Linked DNA regions of Homo sapiens: region 2 is linked to region 1. A link means that fine-mapping ties the variant in region 1 to the plasma level of a protein whose gene starts in the linked region. Region 1 holds a variant in brackets. A gene starts in the other region. All regions are shown on their reverse strands.

Region 1 (2,903 bases):
CTCCTGGGTGCAAGCTGATTCTCCTGCCTCAGCCTCCCGAGTAGCTGGGATTACAGGTGCGTGCCACCACGCCCAGATGATTTTTGTATTTTTAGTAGAGATGGGGTTTCACCATGTTCGTCAGGCTGGTCTCAAACTCCTGACCTCAGGTGATCAGCCCACCTTGGCCTCCCAAAGTACTGGGATTACAGGCGTGAGCCACTGCGCCCAGCCCCACCTTGCTCTTTCTCTTCTACCACACACTACAGAATCTTCTCCCACTCTGCACCCTCAACTGATGACCTTGCTTCCCATTTCACCAAGAAAAGAGAATCACCGGGAAGTGAGCTGTGTCCCGGTGCTGCCGACCCACATCCATGCTCACATCCATGCTCACACCTTCCAGCTTCCCTCCACATCCACGAATGCATTTTCCAGGCTCATCCAGTCCAAAGGTTTTAAATGCCATTTACACGCTGATGACCCAAATATCTACCTCTAGCCTAAAAGTTTTCCTTAACTCCAGACTCTCATAGAGTCTCAACTTGGATATTCAACAGGTATCACAAACTTAACTTATCTAAAACTAAGCACCACATTCTTTCTCTCCACCTCCAGGAAGTTGATTTTCCTAGAATTTCGTCTGCCTCAAAAAATGATAACTCCAGCCCAAAACTCCTGGTATTATCCTTGACTCTTACTTCACACTCACTCCAAATATAACCCATTAATAAATTCTGGTAATTTGTTCTCTAAAAATATCCAGAATATCGCTTCTTGGCCTTTTGGCTAAGATCAAGTGTAAAAAATATCCAGAATATACAAATATTTATACCTCCCCCCGGAACGCTGGCCTATAGCCTGTACCTCTGTAACAGCCTCTAACTGCCCTCCCTGCCTCCCTTCTTCCCCCTCCAAAGTATCTTCAACACTGCAGCCAACACCAGTCTTTCATATTGGAAACTGTTTCCGGGCCAGGCATGGTGGCTCACGCCTGTAATCCCAACACTTTGGGAGGCCGAGGAGGTTGGATCACTTGAGGCCAGGAGTTCGAGACCAGCCTGGCCAACATGGAGAAACCCCGTCTCTACAAAAAATATAAAAATTAGCTGTGGCGGTGCATGCCTGTAGTCCCAGCTACTTGGGAGGCTGAGGTGGGAGAATTGTTGGAACCCAGGAGGCAGAGATTGCAGTGAGCCGAGATCGTGCCACTGCACTCCAGCTTGGGGGACACAGTGAGATCCTGTCTCAAAAAAAAAAAAAAAAAGGAAACTGAAATGAACGTTTCCTACCTCTGTTC[A/G]CTGAAAATTTCTAGATGCAATGATAACCCTGTAGCAATAACCATCCCTACCATCCAGATTTGGCCTCCAAATGTGAATGCCATTTCCCACCAAAAGGAACCAGGGATCCTTAGAGAAATGGCTGATGCCAAGTCTGGGCTAAGGAATGTCTAAAATGGGTCTGGGGTGTCTCATGCTTAAAACAATGGAAGCTGTCAAAGACCATGGGGCACTCTCACAAGGGTACAGGGGCCAACCCAAAGGGATTCCTACTGGCCAAAGATGGGACCATTTTGAACCCCACAAACGTGAATGAGAACTTCCTCTCTTAGAATGACATTCTGAAATACTGATGCAGGAAATCAGACGAGATCTGAGCTACGCTGTCTGGTAACCTGGGAAGAGGGGGTTAAAGAACTGCTGCTGGCAGAGATGACGCCAGACTGGCCAGGGTTCGAGTTCTTAAAAAGCTGGGTGATGACACCGCAGCAGTTCATTACATTATCTTCTCTTCTTTTGTGTTATGTTTGAAAATTCCCAAAGTAAAACGTTTTGAAAATAAGCAAGTGATAAACTGAAATAAAACACTTCGTGCAGAAGTCACTGCTCCCTGTGGTGTGGCCCGTGCTTTCCCGTCTTCTTCCATCCTCGTTCCTTCCTCCACTCAGGCCACAGCAGCTCCGTGTCACTCCTCCCACAGGCCAGGCATGGCCCACCCCAGGGCCTCTGCGCCTGCTGCTCCCTCTGCCTGGAACACACTTTCTCAGACACTTGCCACCCCTCAGATACCGGTGTGGCTCACCCCCTGCCCTCCTTCTGGTCGCTGTTTCCAATTAGACTTCCTAAGAGTTCCTGGATCACCCTGAATACAACGGCAATCTCCCGCTTCCCAGAACTCCCGCTCCTTGCTTTACTGTCTACACACAACTTATCACCAGCCAACACAGGCATTTGAATATGTGTTTATTATTGGTCTCCTCCTCACAGAATTTAAGGTACGTGAGGCAAGAACTGTTTGAATCCCAGCACTGACAAAGTGCCTGGCTCAGAGAAAGCACCCCAAAATATTAATTAACATCAGAAACACATACAGCACTTATTAGGAGGCAGGAACTGTTCTAAGATCTTCATACAACTCACTTGTGAATGACCCACTGGAACAAGACAGCCCCTCCCACCGCTGTGCCCTTTCTCAGGCCGTCCCCCCCAAGCATCCAGAGCCTATGAGCTCAAGTCCCCCAGTTCCATGGAGTACTGGAATATTAGACTATTTCATCATGAGGGTTTTTCTTCTCTCTAAACATCTTGAGCATTTAGTAACTTCAATACTAAAACTGGCAATCACAATGTCATTTCAAAATATTTGTTCTTATTACAAAAGAACATATTATTATATCATCTTATATACATAATATATAACATAACAGAATATATAATTATATATTATGTATATAACATAAAAGGAACACTAATAATATATTGCAGCAAATTTAGAAGATAAAAAATTCAGTAGTAATTCCTACCAGCAATCAACTACTGTTAAAATTTTCATCTGTTTTCTTCTGGTTCACTGTCTCTAGATCTTTTAAATCCTTCTCACAAATATAAATCTCTTGCTTTCTTTAAAGCTATTAAAAATTTCAA
Region 2 (2,903 bases), not on the chromosome of region 1:
GTGGAGTCCTCCCAACCTCATCCTGCATGAGCGAGTGGGCAGGAACTGTGGAGGGCTGCTCACCTGTGCTCCTGGAAACGGCGAGCGAGAGTGAGGAGAGGTCGGGGGACCCTGCAGAGAAGGAGAAACGTCTCAGGAGGTGATGGGGGGCAGCCAGAGGACCAGAGAATATCCCAAGGAAGCCCCACCCCTTCCTCTTCTAGCCCTTCCCCTCTGGATCAGGCCCCTCGCCCTGACTGCCCCCCTGCGTCTGGCCAGGCTTACCAGCTAAATCATGGACAGGTCCTGGCCTTTAGTTTCTGTGGTTCGCCCCACCCTTCATCACACTCAGGGCCCGCTCCTTTTCTCCCTTAAAGTTGGGCCTGGAGGGGACCCCATCTCAATCTCAGTTTAAAAAGTCCCCATCCCGCTGGGCACAAGGGCTCACACCTGTAATCCCAGCACTTTGAGAGGCCGAGGCGTGCGGATCACCTGAGGTCAGAAGTTCGAGGCCAGTCTGACCAGCATGGTGAAACCCCGTCTCTAGTAAAACTACAAAAATTAGCCGGGTGTGGTGGCGGGCACCTGTAATTCCAGCTACTCGGGGGGCTGAGGCAGGAGAACTGCTTGAGCCCGGGAGGCAGAGGTTGCAGTGAGCCTAGATCGTGCCACTGCACTCCAGCCTGGGCGACAGAGCGAGACTCCATCTCAAAAGAAAAAAACAAAAAACAAACAAAAAAAAACATCCTCCTGTCAGGGTCAGACCACTTTTAATTTTTTCAATGTCAAGGCTCCGCTTCTCCGTCTGGAGGCAAGCCCCACCCCCTCCTCATTCTCTGTGTCGGGCCCCGCCCTGCTTTTTTGGGTAACAGGCCCTTCCCCTCCACTCGGCCAGAGTCAGGCCCCGCCCCTTCCCCTTCTTTCGGCCAACTCAGGCCCCGCCCCCTTCCTGCCCTCACGGCCAGGCCCCGCCCCCTCACCCCTCAGCGTAGGGCCCTGCTTCCTTTTTTGAGTCAGGCCCGGCCCTCTTCTCATAGTCCGGGTCGGATCCCGCCCCTCTTCTCCCTCTCTGGGCCCGGCCCCGCCCCGATACCGCCCAAGAGCAGCTTTCGCTCCGCCTTCTCTGAGTCAGGCCACGCCCCCTTCTTTGCCTCAGGGTCAGGCCCCGCCCCCTCTCACTCTACAGCGGGACGCCTCGCTCGAACCTCGGGCCGTACCCCCTCATCACCCTCTGCCTTCTTCCTACGCCCTAATACAGTGTCTCAGGAACCCTCACTCTGCCCCCGCGAAACCCTTAGACTCCCATAGGAACCCCCAGACTACTCCGGGACCGCCAGAATCCCCGCATCTCCAGCCCCGCCCCAGACCCCTCTCCTGAACCCCAGCCCCGCTTACCTAAGGCCCCCAGCTCCGGCGCAGCCGGCGGTCTGGCGACGCGGCGACTCGGCATGGCCCGGCCAGTGGGGACGGACGGCCCAGAGGCTGGCCCAGACCGAAGCATGCACGCGGGCCGGCCGGGCGGCCGGGAGGCACGGTCTGGTGGACGATCGCGGGTCGGACGAGCGGCGCAAGGGCTGGGGCCGCAGGCCGGGCAGGACGCGCGGCGCCCGGGGCTGCGCGGGGCGCGGGGCCGGGCCGGGCGGGCGGCGGGCGGGGGCGGGGCGGCGGAATTCCCCGGCGCCGCCGGCCTGCGCGCCCATTGGTCTGCACCCCGCCGTGACGTCACGCCTGGGGAACGGGAAAACCCCCACGCGTCACGTGATCGCGGGGGCGGGGCCGGCCGGGAAAGGGAGGCTGGGCGCTCAGGAGGGGTTGGGCAGGCGTCGCTGCCCATTGCTCTGGACGAGACAACTGAGGCCTGCTTAGAGCCATCACGCCTTACCCATTGAGCAAGCCGGCAAACTGAGCCGCTCCCCGCTTTGGTCTCCCAGTGGGACTTGAACCTGCCGTTTCTCAGGCTGGAAGGGGAGCTTCAGGATCGAGAGGTTGGCAGGGCTCTACACCTGCCATCCATAATAATATTTCGGAAACCTCCAAGGTCTCGCTACACCTCAGTTTCCTCAACCGTAAATTGAGGATGAAGATATTTAAGGAACGTTTAAAGCTAGCGTGTCAGCTTCAGAATTTATGTTTTGTGCGTTGTTGTAACCCCAACGCCTAGACCAGCGCCTGGAACACCGTAGGTGCCCAATAAATGTTTATTGGAGGCCGGGCGCGGTGGTTCATGCCTGTAATCTCAGCACTTTGGGAGGCCGAGGCAGGCACATCACGAGGTCAGGATTTCGAGACCAGCCTGACCGACATGGTGAAATCCCATCTCTACTAAAAATACAAAAATTAGCTGGGCGTGTTGGTGTGCGCCTGTAATGCCAGCTACTCCGGAGGCTGAGGCAGGAGAATAGCTTGAACCTGGGAGGCGGAGGTTGCAGTGAGCTGAGATCGTGCCACTGCACTCCAGCCTGGGCAACAGAGCGAGACTCCCATCTCAAAAAAAAAAAAGTTTATTGGATGAATGCATGGATGTTTTATTTATTGGTTTGTTCCTCCCTGCAGCCCCTGAAAGTTACCCATAAATAGCCCAGACCACTTTGAGCTCAAAAGCTCAGTTATTCAGTCTGCGAATGGCAGCAGTGTAGCCTCCGTATACATCCTGAGCTGTGTGCCTAAACCCTGAGCTCATCCCTATCACCAGCGCCAGAAGCATATGATAGGATTATTGCAGAAGGGACTCAGGCTGAAAGAGGGGCAGCCATTTGGCTAGATCACATTCCTAAGCCTCTCATATTCCTGAGAACGACTAGGTGATCTATTAGGTTCTAAGTTGGATGCCAGGCGCTCTCAGACCACAGATGCAGGGTTTGTTGTCTTTCCTTTGCTTGTATAAAATTTGGGTGTTCTGGCTAGGCACGGTGGCTCACACCTGT

Which allele goes with the higher level. Alleles are on the strand shown, and positions count from the first base shown. The strength of an association depends on the size of the effect and on how common the allele is.
As copies of A replace G in region 1, the plasma level of the protein whose gene starts at base 1,596 in region 2 goes down (moderate association).

The links. A credible set is the group of variants that fine-mapping cannot tell apart. PIP is the posterior inclusion probability: the model's chance that the variant is causal. The UK Biobank Pharma Proteomics Project read protein levels with antibody pairs (Olink). The fine-mapping took linkage between variants from a reference panel, not from the people measured, so its PIPs are less certain.
Region 2: RELB starts here. The variant in region 1 is the best candidate, but not a certain one, in a credible set for the plasma level of the RELB protein (UK Biobank, PIP 0.63).

What each region holds. Positions count from the first base shown.
Region 1 is chr1:7,794,663-7,797,565 of GRCh38, reverse strand. The region is part of intron 6 of PER3 (period circadian regulator 3); the gene reads right to left. Among named protein-coding and RNA genes, the nearest start is that of PER3, 12 kb to the right of the region's middle. The variant A/G (reference allele first, on the strand shown) is at 1,280.
Region 2 is chr19:45,000,157-45,003,059 of GRCh38, reverse strand. It overlaps RELB (RELB proto-oncogene, NF-kB subunit), which reads right to left and starts at 1,596. Exons shown (of 12, transcript NM_006509.4): 1 at 1,375-1,596; 2 at 64-111. The coding sequence starts at 1,480. RefSeq lists silencers at 763-1,042, 1,363-1,772.